Linked DNA regions of Homo sapiens: region 1 is linked to region 2. The links come from fine-mapping of genetic effects on gene expression. Tissue or cell type: whole blood. Region 2 holds a variant in brackets; the other region holds the start of a gene. All regions are shown on one strand. Distances are from middle to middle.

Region 1 (8,162 bases), 80 kb after region 2:
GCTAAATGAAGAAACTGGCTGAGTAAGGGCTGTAGAATTAGGCTGTCAATGTGGACAGAATTAAAACTGGCTTGGAGGTTATTCTTGCATTGTTCTTGAAACTTAAGGCTATTGAAAGGATTCAGACATTATATATTCCTTGCTGTATAATACCCATGAAAGTCAACATTATCCCACCAAACAGAAGTTGTCCTTTCACCTTCATTCAACAAATATTACCCACTGTCTTCAAGGCATTGTACTAGAAGGTATGCAGGATACAAAGCTTTCATCTGAGGACACAGCACATCTTTGATTTTAGATGATCAATATTCTCTCCCTTTCTCCAAAGGACATTTATGGCCACTTATGGCATACGAATTAACTATTAAAGTTATACATTCAACACACCTAAGTCACATAAATCTGGTTATGGACACAGTAGCAATAAAATTAAGAAAAAATTCTGACACTCACCCTGAACAAAGGCCCTTTTAAAATTAATAGCATATCTGAAAAATAAGAGGAGCCCGAGTAAAGTGAGACCTGCCAATGTAATGGGCTTGGTGAATCACTTCAAAATGCCCAGGCCTCCCTTTGGACACAATGTTATCAGGTTAATACAGCACTTGCATCACCATCTCTGAGTACCGTGCTGAGTAACAACGGGCCAAATTTAGCAGCTAAAATGGAGAGGGAATTTCCAACAACCCGTGCAATGCCACATATTCTCAGTGAAAAGCAACTACTAGAAATATACTATCCCTTACCCTCCTAACTTAAACTGTGCCTCTCTGCATCATCACTACACCTGGAGAGGGAGCTCCTCTAAGGGAATGTCTCAGGAGATGGCTGGTGGTTAGAAGAGAGAAAGATTCCCTCTTAGGCCAGAGGTAGCACAGCAGCCAGCTATGGCTTCTGCAGCAGTAAGCTTTCAGTCGGGAAGGGCCAGACACCGCTCCCTCACTTCCCTCCCAGCATGGGTATTGCTACTGTAAAGTTACCACGACCACTAAAGTTGGTTTCATTTCCCATCATGAAACACCCTAGAAAAAAAAGGCTGTCTCAGCTTACTGCCAAGTTGGACAAAAGCAGAAGCTCAAAGAACAAGGCCAGAGGCAAACATGCCACCTTTCCTTCAGAGGCTGGGCTGTGAAGGCCACAAGGGAAGCCCACTGTGGCTCTTCACGGCCCCGCTCCGGCCTTGACACCCCGGGCAGAGATCAGTCTTCTCCACTCAGGGTTGGGCCGGGTGCCTCACTTGCGGTTCCATCCCCAGAAACACTTACCAGGAGACTGTGAAGCACACAAAGCCGCATTATTGGGAGACTTGCAGACAGATTATAAATTTACTGGGGACAATCAAGGCATTTAGATACTTTTGGCTACAGATGCTGGTGACACACACATACATACAAACCTCATTCTTCTCTCCATTTGAGCGATTCTTTACCCCCCTCCTTTACCCTAACATCTCTTTTTTCACAAAACAACCTCCCACTGCTTTCCTAGGGAATTCCAGGGAGAAGCGGGAATAGAGCAGGTGGTAGAAAAAGGATATTAGGCTTCGAAGCTCTAATACAACCCCACAAGCTAGTGCTGCTATTCAAGGGTAAAACTGTAAACCCTGTGCAGTTTAACTGTTGGTAGTTATTTTTCATCTGGAGCTGGCCTCAAGGAGTCCCATTCCTAGGTAGCCCAAGTAAATGTGCTTATGGCTGGGGAGAAAAGCACCATCCTACTCCCCAGAGATTCCCAGGGTCTTCGTCACCATGGACCCAGGCCAGGGATTAAGGGAAGCCAGAAAGAGCCATCCTGAGCGTCTGGCCAGAGGATGTCCTCTCCCGAGAGCTCAATATCAAGCTCCTTTGGAGGAGCAGTTAGACACAATAGCACCATCTCCTTTGGGCTTTTTGAGTACTTTGGGGCTTGCATGGCCATTTCCTGTCGCTTTTGCTAGGGCTGACCTGGGTAAACTGGAGCAGACATAGAATCCAGAAGTCCCATGGAGCTCCAAAAGGGAGGAAGCCTGCAGGGCCACAGGGCAGGGTTCTACCTTCCACCAGAGGCCACTGGTCCAGCAGCTTTGGGGGGAAGCCTGCAAACAGCAGGCAGTCACCTGACCAGGACTGGCACTGAGAATCAATGATCCAAGGGATACTCCTCTGGGATGGTGTGTGTCTGTGCCTCTGGGGAAGAACTTCCAGCCAGAAACTTAATCAGAACTTTTGGGTTTGATATCCTATCACCAGGAGTGGCTGAAGACAAGGTATTTCCTAGGATGATGATCTGTGTAAATAGCTGCTTCGTGCCTGTCTGCTTAACGAATGCTCTAAGGGAGCATTACTGGATTGGACTGGAGTGCTTGGGAAAATAATCGAGATGTGGCTCAGGAGTGAGAGAGTCTAGAGGGAATCAGAGAGTAGGCCTCTTAAGAAACAGTGCCTCCCTAGTCTCTCTTTGGGATATTTTCCCCAAATTTTGTTTTTGACTGAGGGGACATTCGGGGAATTTGCTATTTGTTACAGCTTACCATTTATGTTCTCTTAAGCGAAGAAGAAGGGGGTCACTTCAAAAGGGAGAGGGGAAATGGGGCAAGGAGAAAAAGGCTTTAATAAAGGCCAGCTGGGCTGATAAATGCTTTGGGGCTGAAAAATGGCTTGGGGGCCTAATCAGAGCTGGCTGGCCAAAGCTGGAGGATCCATGAGATAGAACCTTCCTCAGTGGCTCAGATCTTGCCAGCTGGTAGCCTCTTCTTTTATAAGATGTGGACCCCAGAGAGCCTCTGGAAAACTCAGGCTTCTTATCAGTTAAGGAATATCCTATAAGCGAAGGAAAACCCAGGAGTGAGCACCAACAGAACATGATGAGTAGGCGCATGAAACCACCCGAACACACCCAATGGCCTTTAAGGTAGTCAGGTGACATCTTGGCCTTTTTCATTGCCATCCACTCTACCTTAGGCCAAAGCAAACTCTACCCTCACAAAAGGTCACAGGACCACAGCCAGAACCATGAGAAAGCCAGGTGCTTACCGCAATCAGGGCTGAGTTCCTCTGGTCCCCTGGGGTTGAAGCGGGCGGCTGCTGCTCTCCGTTTATCCCACCACTGCCACCATTATTGCTACTGTTCAGCAGGTGCTGCTGGTGGTGATGGTGATAGTCTGGTGGGGGCGGTGGGGCTGCTGTTGCTGCTGCTTGGGAGGCCGCAGGAGGGGCAGCAGGGGGCGGTGGAGGGGCTGTAGTGGTGGCAGCAGTGGCGGTGGCCTTGGTGTGTTTGCCAGCTTTCCTTGCCCCCTGGCCATGCTGTACAAGGCTCAGGAGCTGCAAGGTGCTTTCTCTTTCCCGGTCTGAGCTCTCGGCCCTACCTCGTTCATATCGTCCTTCACAGCTCAGGTGGTGTTGGCGGCAGACAGCGATCCGAGCCCGGAGGCGCTCCACGATAGCACTGTGCACTCTCGGGGTGACTGAGCCCCCTCCAAGGAGCCCCGCCCCAGAGGCCCCCCCTAGCCCTCCTGCGGGGGCCTGCGGGGGCGCTGTGTCCCCCATCTTACCGGACACAATGATTGCTGCCTCTGGGATGGTGAGGTGGAAAGAGGCTACTGCTGGCTATTGCAGGCAAGTCTGTTTTTGACAATGTGAGCTCAGTGTTCAGGGCCACATGAATAGAGGTCTTCAGAGGTTGTGGGGGAGCCGTGGAGAAGTTGTGGGGGAGGGGAGTTAGTAAAAAGAGGGTGGGGAGAAAGAATAGAAACCAACTGGGGGGAGGATAAGTTGGAAACAAACCCTGATTAACTTACTCTAATTGCATTTGACAGCTCTGGAGAAGTTGGACAGAGTTGGTGGATTTTTTTTCCTCCACCAAGCTGACAAGAGCCACTAGGTACTTTGTAAACACACGATCTGGGGGTTAGATCAAGAATTCAGGGATTGTCCAGCAAGAGACAGAAACACACAGCAAAAGGTATTGAGAGAGGTATTAATAGAGAGGACTCCCCCTCACCTAGTTGTTTCCGACAATTCTTTATGGGGATGTTTCTGCAGAGAAACACATTTCTACCATGTCTATGTAACCAGCAGCCTTGACTTTTCCTCAGGTTAAATAAAAAACCAAAACAAAACAAAACAGTGCTGTTTCAGAAGATGTTTAAGTCACTGTTCAAAATGTGCAAAAATCAAGGGAGACTGTCTTTTGGCTTTTAATTTTTCCTCCCTTTCCTTTCGCTCCGGTGTTTTCTCCTCTTTGGGGTACTGTAGGATGTTGTCTTCTCCCAAAAGAGGGAGACAGCTTTTCAACTGTTAACAATGTCAGTAATTGGACTTTTGGACCATGCTTTTTTCTTCAGCTAATCCAATCACCGGTAAAATCCTCACTCCCTCTAAGGTTTCCTAGCCTTAAATGAAAAGCAATCTTAAGTCGCTAGCCACTGAGAGAGATCCTTCAACACATTTTTTTCTTTCCCGCTTACGTTTCTATTCCTCACCCCCGGCTCTATTCTAATACAGTATCAAGAGAGACAAACTCTTCCGAGAGTAATTTACAAACGATGGTCAAACTTACAAACTTCCAGCAAATTGCACCGAGTCATGTCCAGCCACTTTTCTGTCCACTTTTGTACATTCCATCCCCGGCCAGTGGATCTGAGGGTCTGGACTCGCAATAAGCAATCTGGTTCTATCTCCTGTATTTGCTCCGCTTTATAGATGGAAAAAAAAAGTAGCTTGTATTTTCCTTTCTCTTTCTCGTCTGTTGTTAGCCGCTTTGCTGACACTGGCTCGCGCCCGGAGTCACGGCGATACACAGGCTTTCATTGTGCTCCGATAGGAGAGGGAGAGAAAGAGAGAGAGTGAGACAGAGAAGGAGAAAGAGAGAGCCAGCAAGCTGCAGATGGGGGTGGGGGGGCGGGGAGAGGGCGGGAGAGCTCGTTCGAGGCTCCCTGGTGGAAGGCTGGTGCCACTGCGCGAGTGAGTAATCGCAGCCAGGCACCGGGGAAAGGGGAACGCAGAGGGCCTCCCAGTGGCTGAAGAGGTAAATCCCAAGCCCTGCGCATCTCAGCTGCCCTGGCTCAGCTCAGCATCAGACTCGGTTAAGCGGGGAAGGCTGGGGAAATTCCCCAACCTCTACACAACCATTTCACCAGCTCTAAATGTTTAAGAAATTCCGGGCCAGGAATGTGTTTTCCCTTTCAGCCCTACATTACGCCCCGCTGAGGATATCATTTTCATTTTTCAGTATATTGTAAATGACACCACTGAGCAACCTAGCACGAGCTGTGTGAGCACCGAGGAAATGTTCATTAATAGAATAAGGAAGATATGAATGTGTGTGTTGAGGGCGGAAGGGGTTGCGCGTGGAGAGGAGAGGTAATCACATTGTTAGCTCCTAAAGGGCAGGCAGGTGTAGCGTTTGTCTACCTGCCTGCCCATTTGTGTGTCTCTGGATAAGTGAGTCTGGGTGATCACAGGCAAATCAGTTGGGATAAATAAAATATTTTATGAGAATGATACAATTATCGATACCAGTTCTAGAAAAAAACGCTTTTTTTTTGGGAATGCATGATTGCCTATGAAAAACCAAATATAAGACCTGAAGTATCCTTAGCTACCTGGTGCACATATACAATGAGGAAAGTCAATGTGTAGCAGCTGAGTTTCAAAAAGTTTTTTTTTTTTTTTTCTTTTAATGGAGTCTTGTTATGTTGCCCAGGCTGGAGTTGAACTCCTGGGCTCAAGTGATCCTCCCACTTGAGCCTCCTGAGTAGCTGGAACTACAGGTACTCACCACTACTGCACCTGGCTCTGAGTTTCAAGAAGTTTAATAATAGAAACCAAATAGATCTCACACAGATCATTGTTCCCCCATTTTCAAGTGATCCAACCTTTAAAATATCCAATCCTGGCCAGGCACAGTGGCTCACGCCTGTAATCCCAGCACTTTGGGAGGCCAAGGCAGGTGTATTACCTGAGTTCAAGAGTTCAAGACCAGCCTGGCCAATATGGTGAAACCCCGTCTCTGCTAAAACTACAAAAATTAGCTGAGCATGGTGTCATACGCCTGTAATCCCAGCTACTCGGGAGGCTGAGACAGGATAATTGCTGGAACCCAGGAGGCGGAGGTCGCAGTGAGCTAAGATCACGCCACTGCGCTCCAACCTGGGCAACAGGGTGAGTCTCTGTCTCCAAAAAAAAAAAAAAAACTTATTGTGGATTCTGCTTATTTTCAATTATGAAGATTAAATTAAGGTGAGCATAATACTGCAACAGTCAGGACCAAAAATATTCTGGGTATCCTAATTTGGAAGTCATTTGGATTTGAGGTCTCAAATAATATACCTTCAGTAATCTAAACAAACTCTGGCATTTCACGAATATGGTCGTTTCAAACTGAGCTATGGATAGAAATAGGCAAAATCAAGGCAAACATCTCAATACTGGATTTATTTGCAATTTAGTTCCCTATAGGATAGCCTACTTTAGTCCATTTTATTTTCACCAATCCTGTTAGCTTGGAAATGGGGACAAATACACTCAGATTTTTTGTTTGTTTTATAATTTCTTTTATTTCTTTTTTTAAATTTTATTATTATTATACTTTAAGTTTTAGGGTACATGTTCACAACGTGCAGGTTTGTTACATATGTATACATGTGCCATGCTGGTGTGCTGCACCCATGAACTCGTTATTTAGCATTAGGCATATCTCCTAATGCTATCTCTCCCCCCTCACCCCACCCCACAACAGTCCCCAGAGTGTGATGTTCCCCTTCCTGTGTCCATGTGATCTCATTGTTCAATTCCCACCTATGAGTGAGAACATGCGGTGTTTGTTTCTTCGTCCTTGTGATAGTTTGCTGAGAATGATGGTTTCCAGCTTCATCCATGTCCCTACAAAGGACATGAACTCATCAATTTTTATGGCTGCATAGTATTCCATGGTGTATATGTGCCACATTTTCTTAATCCAGTCTATCATTGTTGGACATTTGGGTTGGTTCCAAGTCTTTACTATTGTGAATAGTGCCGCAATAAACGTACCAGTGCATGTGTCTCTATAGCAGCATAATTTATAGTCCTTTGGGTATATACCCAGTAATGGGATGGCTGGGTCAAATGGTATTTCTAGTTCTAGATCCCTGAGGAATCGCCACACTGACTTCCACAATGGTTAAACTAGTTTACAGTCCCACCAACAGTGTAAAAGTGTTCCTATTTCTCCACATCCTCTCCAGCACCTGTTGTTTCCTGACTTTTTAATGATTGCCATTCTAACTGGTGTGAGATGGTATCTCATAGTGGTTTTGATTTGCGTTTCTCTGATGGCCAATGACGATGAGCATTTTTTCATGTGCTTTTTGGCTGCATAAATGTCTTCTTTCGAGAAGTGTCTGTTCATATCCTTTGCCCACTTTTTATGGGGTTATTTGTTTTTTTCTTGTAAATTTGTTTGAGTTCATTTAGATTCTGGATATTAGCCCTTTGTCAGATGGGTAGGTTGCAAAAATTTTCTCCCATTCTGTAGGTTGCCTGTTCACTGTGATGGTAGTTTCTTTTGCTGTGCAGAAGCTCTTTAGTTTAATTAGATCCCATTTGTCAATTTTGGCTTTTGTTGCCATTGCTTTTGGTGTTTTAGACATGAAGTCCTTGCCCACACCTATGTCTTGAATGTTATTGCCTAGGTTTTCTTCTAGGGTTTTTATGGTTTTAGGTCTAACACATAAGTCTTTAATCCATCTTGAATTAATTTTTGTATAAGGTGTAAGGAAGGGATCCAGTTTCAGCTTTCTACATATGGCTAGCCAGTTTTCCTGGCACCATTTATTAAATAGGGAATCCTTTCCCCATTGCTTGTTTTTCTCAGGTTTGTCAAAGATCAGATAGTTGTAGATATGCGGCATTATTTCTGAGGGCTCTGTTCAGTTCCATTGGTCTATATCTCTGCTTTGGTACCAGTACCATGCTGTTTTGGTTACTGTAGCCTTGTAGTATAGTTTGAAGTCAGGTAGCATGATGCCTCCAGCTTTGTTCTTTTGGCTTAGGATTGACTTGGCAATGCGGGCTCTTTTTTGGTTCCACATGAACTTTAAAGTAGTTTTTTCCAATTCTGTGAAGAAAGTCGTTGGTAGCTTGATGGGGATGGCATTGAATCTATAAATTACGTTGGGCAATATGGCCATTTTCACGATA
Region 2 (8,202 bases):
CATATATGGAGTAAACATCAAAGCCCAAGAATACAGTGGTCTAAGCCAGTGTGCTTAGAAGTTGCCAGATCCTCCATGCTTCATTCCAGCCACTATCAGCAGATTCTAAATCACCTATGAGCAGAGAGGCCCATCTGCCTAGGGCATAAACGAAATTATAACAACAGTGAGAGAGCCAATGGGAGTCAGCCAGTAAGACTATGAGCAGCATGATGTACTCAGACTTTTGTTCCTTTTTATTTATTTGGTTAAAATACATGTGTTTTTGCTTCAGGCAGATGTTGGTATCCCAGCCTTTTATACAGGAAGCTGTAGAAGGGAGAGGACTTTCTGGGTGGGAGCAACTTATTGTGGAGGCCAAATGGCATTTTTTGTAGGCCCTGAGATTTTTTACGAAAACACTAACTCTGTTCAGAACTCTTTCAAAGGGTGAAGACAAACTTAACAACCTTATACTATAATACAAATAATTACAGAGTGTTGCTTTAAACTTGTATCTTGAAGTTCCTTCTTTAGGTAACTCTGCTTAACAACCACAGACTCTTCTTCCTAATGGCTTATCTGCATGTCTTTTCAATTTTCTAAGTGAAGGCCAGCCCCCTTCAAGATGTTCTACCAACTCAGTCCTATTCTTTCCAGATGTTTTTTTTCTTTTTCTTCTTCTGAAAAGCATGTGTTGATAGACTATGGGGAACAGACCAAGATTTATTTTTTAGCCAGCATTTTCCCCTTGCAACCGTAAGTCATTCTTCCTCAGAAGGCAAGGTGGGGCAAGTGATTCTAATGTGCTTCGCTCCAATGCTTCCATCTCAATAACCCTTTAAAGTGAAAACTGTGGAGAGTGAAGTGAAAAACTTGTCTCCATCTGGAAGCATTTATACAGAGAGGTGTCTTTAGCTTAGTTGTTTGTCTAGAATTTCCATTTATGAACCGACTTGCCTTTCTCCTGTGGGTATGCTGGAGAAAACTCTTTGCAAAATCCATTGTATGCAATAATCCAGTGGCTCCTTCAAACTCAATCAGGCTGGAAAGGCTAAATATGACTCATAGGATTCCTCCAACAAACACAAAGTAAGTCAGAAGTCAAGGAGAGAGTCATCTCGATGTGGACCAGCTTACCTAGCAAGGCAGGGAATTGTCATAAAACCAGTTTCCTGCTTGCAAGACCTTGACTCCTTTCAGTAAAGGTGTCAACTCTTCTTTTTCTGAACAATCTCAATGTGAATGACAGGGCCTGATTCTAGAGGAAGGTGTCTTTAATCTTTTTATGGTTCAGTATAAAGGTTACCTTAAAAAAAGCCTTGGGATATACTTTCAAGATACTGACTTGTGATTTTTTTTTTTTTTTTAAACATCAGTATGTCCTGTTCTAATTTAATCATTATTCTTTCAAACAGGCTGGGAGGAAAGGTTCCTGGACATCCACAGAGAAAACTTATTCAATAAAACATTTTATAATCCTCGGAACACCTGTGCCACCTTCCTAAAGGCCAGTCAGTTCCAGGACTTCCTAAAAATGAAGGTTGGACTGTGTGAATGCCTGTGTGTGTGGGAGTGGAGTCACTCTGTGTGGTGTTGGGGGATGGGGTGGGGGGAAGCAAACTGGCAGACTCTAGAAGGATGGTGGTAGAGCAGAAGAAAAAAGAAGAATGTCTGAATCTGGAGTGGCCCCATGAGACCCAGTCTGTACTCAGGTGACACTGGAATAACAGGAGTTCCTTCTAAAACCAAGAGAGCAGCAGACACTCTGTCATGCCACACCCTTCTCAACTGTCTTATCCCTTGGCCGTCTCCTTTTTAGAAGCTAAAGCAATACATTTTTTTCTTCAGTGTCTCTTGTTCTTGGAATGGAGGTGCAGCATAGTTCCGGCCAATAAGATGGACATCTGATAGGAGAGGGGTGTGCTTTTGGGACACTTTCAGCTTTTCTGATAAGAGGAACACCAGGGCTGCCCTCACTCCTCCCTCCAGTCTGCCAATGTGATACCTGCAGTTTAAGACTATGAGAGAAAGGCATAGAGAATCACAGACAAACTGACCCTGAGCAGTGATATTATTTGAGTCACTAAACTAATACCCATAATGACCTTATATCCAGAAATATTGTAGTGTGTGTGGGAGGAAAAATCCCTATTTGTAATCACTTTATTTCTTACACTGTTAGTCAGTTTTCTGTTATTTGCAGGCAAAAAAAAAAAAAATTCCTAATTGATTCAGCAGAGGAGGCAGATCAAATGAGTAGCCATCAACTCTTAAAAAGGTTGTTTTTTTGTTTTGTTTCGTTTTTTGGGGGACAGCGTAGCTTTGAAAAACCTGAGTGAAACTAAATATTCTTCTGAAGGTAAAACCAATATAGCATATCATGGAGCCTCATAATTTATTTCAAATTTTATGCCTGAAACAACTTACCATCATTACTCTATGCTATGGTTTGAATGACCCCTCCAAAACGCATGTTGGAACTTAATCTCCAATCTGGCAGTATTGACAGGTGGTAACTTTAAGAGGTGATTGGATCATGAAGGCTCTGTCCTCATAAATGGATTAATCCATTCACGGATTAATGGGTTATGATGGGAGGGGAACTGGAGACTTTATAAAAGGAAGAGAGACCTGAGCTAGCACATTAGCACGCTCAGCCCCCTCCGCCACGTGATGCCCTGTGCCACAGAATCCCCACCACCAAGAAGGCTATCAACAGATGCAGCCCCTCAACCTTGGACCTCTCAGCCTCCATAACTGTAAGAAATAAATTCCTTTTCTTTATAAATTACCCAGTTTTGGGTGTTTTGTTATAAGCAAAAGAAAACAAACTAAGACACTCCATCCAGTGGTTCATGACATTTATTGAGAGGAAAGACAAGGTGTATTCTATAGCTATAACCGTAGAATTGCTTTTGTTAAGTATATTTATGTTTATACAAGCCTATAACCTTATTTTCCTACATGAGCCGAAGGTATCGTCTAATGGGGTTCTTGGCTTACCCCAAGTCCTTCTGATAATATTGGAGACTTATAGAGACTTTTGAAAGGAACACAACATAATGAATGGAAAGAGCAAATATCTTGCCTGGTCCCTAGCTAGTGACATGATATTGTGCAAATTACTTTGACTACCTGAGCTCCATATTATTCGTCTATAAAATAAGGAAGTGTTCAATTCAGTAACTATTTCAATGTTATTGTCTAAACAGTTTGATTATAAACAACCAAGTTACCTAACTGCAGACAATTTTATAATTATTTTTTCACCAATATGTGTTATGTTAGATTTCTAATATATCACCATGAACAAATATTTAAATTCTAAAATTTGTATTTGATACGGTCAGAATTCCTAAAATCAGTGGCATTCTCTGACTCAAAGAGTTATTTCCCTCCTGGCTCATTATTCTCCATATTAATGTTTTTAAAAGATGTCCTGAAGTCCTTGCATCTTTCTGGGTCCCAACCAACATCTACTGAACTTGAGTATTTGAGGATGGAACCCAGAAATCCGTATTTTTCACAAGCATTCTGGGACATTCTGACATGTACTAAAGTTCGAGGACCACTAATCTGGAAATAGGTGTCACTGAGACATTGGAAGATTAAAAATTGTGTACGGTTTTTATGATAAATGAAGACAGAGTTCAGTCACAGATTCAGTTTTTTACTTCTCCAAATGTGCTGATTTAAGGTCATTTATAACATTCTCATAGATTAATTTGACCCTCAGTTAGCATTATTATTTATTGTATAAATAAAATTCACAAAATCAAACTGAAAATAATTCTCCCAAGATTTTGATTACTGCTCGTTTTCTTTCCTCTTGTTTTTCCCTCCAGTCACCATTTGTTCTTATTTTTAAAATTTAATCTTTTTTTTTTTCTTTTTTGAGATGGAGTCTCGCTCTGTTGCCCGGGCTGGAGTGCAGTGGCGCAATCTCAGCTCACTGCAACCTCCGCCTCCCAGGTTGATGCCATTCTCCTGCCTCAGCCTCCCGAGTAGCTGGGACTACAGGCACCCGCCACCACGCCTGGCTAATGTTTTTTGTATTTGTAGTAGAGATGGGGTTTTACCATGTTAGCCAGGATGGTCTGGATCTCCTGACCTCATGATCCGCCCACCTCAGCCTTCCAAAGTGCTGGGATAATTTAATCCATTTTTTAAATCCTTGTTTTAATGCTCTGTTTCATTTACTGCCCAAAGAATGGCAAGCTTGTAGATAAACATGGCAAGTGCCATATTTGCCTGCTTTACTATAATCTCAGCTTTCTGCACCTTCTGGCTTATTTTCAATCCTATCATCCATTAATAAAATCAAAGGAGTCATGTTTACTTTGCACCCATGTTTTTCTTGATCTCTCTTTGGCAAGATTTGATAGTAATCATTATACTAATTGCTAATAGTAAACTGCTTCCCCGGGAGTTAAAAAAAAGTTCAGGAATTTCTACTCCAGTTTATATAGTTGATTGGGTTGAGAACAGCATGACATTGTAATATCTATATAAACAATGCATTTCTCAAGAGTAATTTGCTCACCATAGCATTTGGTATACTATCACCTCTTTAATCAATTCTGATTTATTCAACTTTTCTTTTATTACAAACTAGTCAAAATATTCCCCAAAATGTCATGTCCAATTCAGGTATGTTTTGAATACACTGCCTGTCATTGTTAAAAGCAGGACTGAGATCTGTAAGAGAGACCAGCATTGTTTGCCAATGTTTCAAAGCCATTTAAAAGGCAAGATAACTTGGAATAAACAGACTGAATCAAAAAAGGTTAAAGCTATTACAATT[C/A]AACAATTTAACAACAATATTAGTCATTGTTATTTCACAATAATATGTTCAGCATTTCTAAAGTGTTTCTCAATCAGAAAATGTTCATGTATCTTACAAAATTTTAAACTACTGATGAGTCACACATAGCACCTTAAAAGGAAGTCTGGTGTCCATTGTGAAAGATAAGAATTTAAGAGGCAGATGATCTCCCACTAATGACATACATTTATCCAAAGGTAAAGCTAAGATAGTTCTGAAAGAAAGGAAAGGTGAAATGGGATCCTGATCTTTTATACAGTACATCCTCTAGCCACAAGGGAAATTCCTTTTGAGTCTGTACTTGGGCTCAGCAGGTATGGAGGGGGGCTGGTGGGACCACAATGACCCCTTTGAATGGTCAAAGTGGTTGGTATCATTAAAAGAGCAACCAAATTGGAGTCAAGAGACCCAAATGTATGTTTCCCAATCCTTATTTATTATTTGTGTAGCCTTGTGCATGTCACCATCTTCCTGGGCCTGTCTGTGCCCTTATAAAAGATCTATAGCATTAGTGTATTAACAGACCTCCTTAGGGGGATTTGGTGAGGGAAAATTAAGGAAATATGTAGAAATCACTCTGAAATAAATGTTGGTTATAGTTATAATTCAAAAAAGACCCAGATCACTTCTTTAGAGCCTAAAAGCCAAGTATGGACTAGAGTGCCAGAGTGTCTCTTGTTTGGGCTATTGTTCTACATTTACCCACAATTATCTCAGCAACTATTCATCCCCAAGTAACCTAACTGGGGGAGCCTAGCCCAATGCAGAGGTTACAGGTCCGTAACTTTTGTAAAGCCCCCTCACAAACTAAGATGTCAGCTGCTGCCAAATTAGTTACAAAGTATGGAACCCATCCATGTGTTCGTTTTTTATAAGGCCCAGACCCCCATTCAGTTTAGTATCTGGAAACCCTGACTTTTGCATGCTGCTGGAGAAAAAATTATCTCCAAACCAATACCTACCTCTGGCAGGAATGTGCATTGGAACAGATTGAGGCAAAAATAACCCATTTGAACACAATATGCAACAGTGTATACAAATATGTTTTACGGCTGGACTTGAGTTCTGATTGTTAACATGTCCTGTTTTGTGCCACTCACTCAAAAATGTGTTCTATTAGGAGTCAGGTTCTATTCCTGACCCTCTTAGTCACGCTGGGCAAGGCATTTCCATTTTCCTTAGCTTTATCTTAACCATCTTGGAATGTCTCCTCATCCACTCTACCGTACTGGTTTCAAGTTATGTCTTCTAAGCTAATAACGGAGGGTCCACAAATTAAGCATTACAAATTGTACTAACTACTGTATTGAAGTAGGAGTCATGACCCCAAACCACTTCTTAAAATGCTCCTGAAATGAAAACGTTGAAAGGAGTACAAATCATTGCTTCAAATACTCTAAAAACTAGTTACCACACAGCATATCTTATTTCGGCATAGGGTACTTATTTAGTTTTGCAAGAACACATTTAATACCCTAGATATGCCTTTCTTCAGCTATAAGCCCACTACATCCTGTGAGGAGAAGAGTTTGAAGAGCAAGACCTTCTGGCTTTCAAAAGTTAGCAGACGGTCAGGAATTACCAATACTGAGGCTGTTAACATTAACCTAAAGAAATCAAGGCATTTCAAATTGTTACATAACTAAACCATGTTATTTATTCTTTGTACACAAATACATAGTGTCAGCTGACTTTCATTAGGAATGTGGTAGAGACAGCTAGAGGACAAGCTACAGAAGAGGCCCAAGCAATTGCCAGTACAAGCAGGCACGATGCAAAGCATTTCTGCCTGTGAAAATGGACAGAAAAGTGGCTGGCTTTAGCGCGGGGAGGACGAGGGGAGAGTTGGCAGAGGCAGAAAATGTGATGGAAAAACAACAGAGTTATTTTCCCCATGAATTACTCTTGCAGGTTGTGTAAACTTTCAAGTGAATAACTAGAATATGGCTTATGATGTAACTGAACAGTACAGAAGTCTGCACAGAGAAAGTCCTGTTCAAAAGAGAAGGAACACAACCACTGGTGAAAGACAGCTCAGCAGAAATGATATGGAAGAGGGGAAGGGAAGTGCTGGGTAGAGGAAGGCATGGTCCCAGGTTAGGACTCCACCCCCACGGACCTAGGTGAGGACAGGCATTTTTGTTTTCCTGCCCAAATGCTACATTTCCCAAGACCACCCAGGCCCCCATCCTGTGCCTATAAAAACCCGAGACCCTAGCAAGGCAGAGACAGAAGCAGCTGGACGTGGAGAGGAGCACATTGGCAGAGGAACACACAAGCGGCTAGACGTTGAGTGGAACTCACCAGCAGGCACCAGCAGGCCACTGACGGGCAAAACAACACAGAGTTTGGCTGGGGCAGTTGGAGGAGCGCTCGGCCCCCAAGCGGCCCAACTTATGGGGAAAATCATCTCCCTTATGGCTCCCCCATCTGCTGAGAGCTTCTTCCACTCAATAAAACCTTGCACTCATTCTCCAAGCCCACGTGTGATCTGATTCTTCCACTACACCAAAGCAAGCACCCCAGGATACAGAAAGCCCTCTGTCTTTGCCACAAGGTAGAGGGTGTAATTAAGCTAGTTAACACAAGCTGCCTTTGGATGGCTACACTAAAAGAGCACCCTGTAACACATGCCTACTGGGGCTTCAAAAGCTGTAAACATTCACCCCTAGACACTGCCCTGGTGTTGGAGCCCCACAGCCTGCCCGTATGTATGCTCCCTTAGAGGCCTGAGCAGCAGGGCACTGAAGAAACGAGCCACTTCCCCATCGTACACCCTGCGAGGGGGACAAAGGAACTTTTCCCATTTCACCTCCTCTGTCAGTACCAAGCTGGTCTGTATGAGGACGGCAGTCTTTGAAAAACAACATATTGGCCAGGCGTGGTGGCTCACACCTGTAATCCCAGCACTTCGGGAGGTCGAGGTGGACAGATCACGAGGTCAGGAGATTGAGACCATCCTGGCTAACACGGTAAAACCCCATCTCTACTAAAAATACAAAAAAATTAGCTGGGCGTGGTGGTGGGCACCTGTAGTCCCAGCTACTCGGGAGGCTGAGGCAGGAGAATGACATGAACCCAGGAGGCGGAGCTTGCAGTGAGCCGAGATGGCACCACTGCACTCCACCCTGGGCAACAGAGTGAGACTCCGTCTCAAAAAAAAAAAAAGAAAAACAACATATTGGTGCGATTCTGAGCTTCACTGACAAAGTGAAATTGACTACCTCTCTAACTGATTAACTATATCTCAATTTCAAATACTGACCACAAAGGTAGAATCTAATTATGAACTGACATATTAAGACCTAGGTGCTTAAATGGTAGGATGTACTTATTCTAGGCTTCCTGTGCTATGACAGGCTTTTACTCTTATGTGGTTAGGTATGTTTCCAGGG

What was found. PIP is the estimated chance that this variant, and not a neighbour inherited with it, causes the effect.
Region 1: MAML2 starts here. The variant in region 2 is fine-mapped to the expression of MAML2 in whole blood (TOPMed, PIP 0.95).

Annotation. Positions count from the first base shown.
Region 1 is chr11:96,338,369-96,346,530 of GRCh38, forward strand. MAML2 (mastermind like transcriptional coactivator 2) reads right to left here and starts at 4,827. Exons shown (of 5, transcript NM_032427.4): 1 at 3,015-4,827. The coding sequence starts at 3,527. MIR1260B (microRNA 1260b) reads left to right here and starts at 3,070; the gene lies at 3,070-3,158. RefSeq lists silencers at 897-1,191, 3,444-3,703, 4,821-5,010.
Region 2 is chr11:96,258,609-96,266,810 of GRCh38, forward strand. All of the region lies in intron 1 of MAML2 (mastermind like transcriptional coactivator 2), which reads right to left. Among named protein-coding and RNA genes, the nearest start is that of MIR1260B, 79 kb to the right of the region's middle. RefSeq lists enhancers at 58-147, 188-237. The variant C/A (reference allele first, on the strand shown) is at 4,787.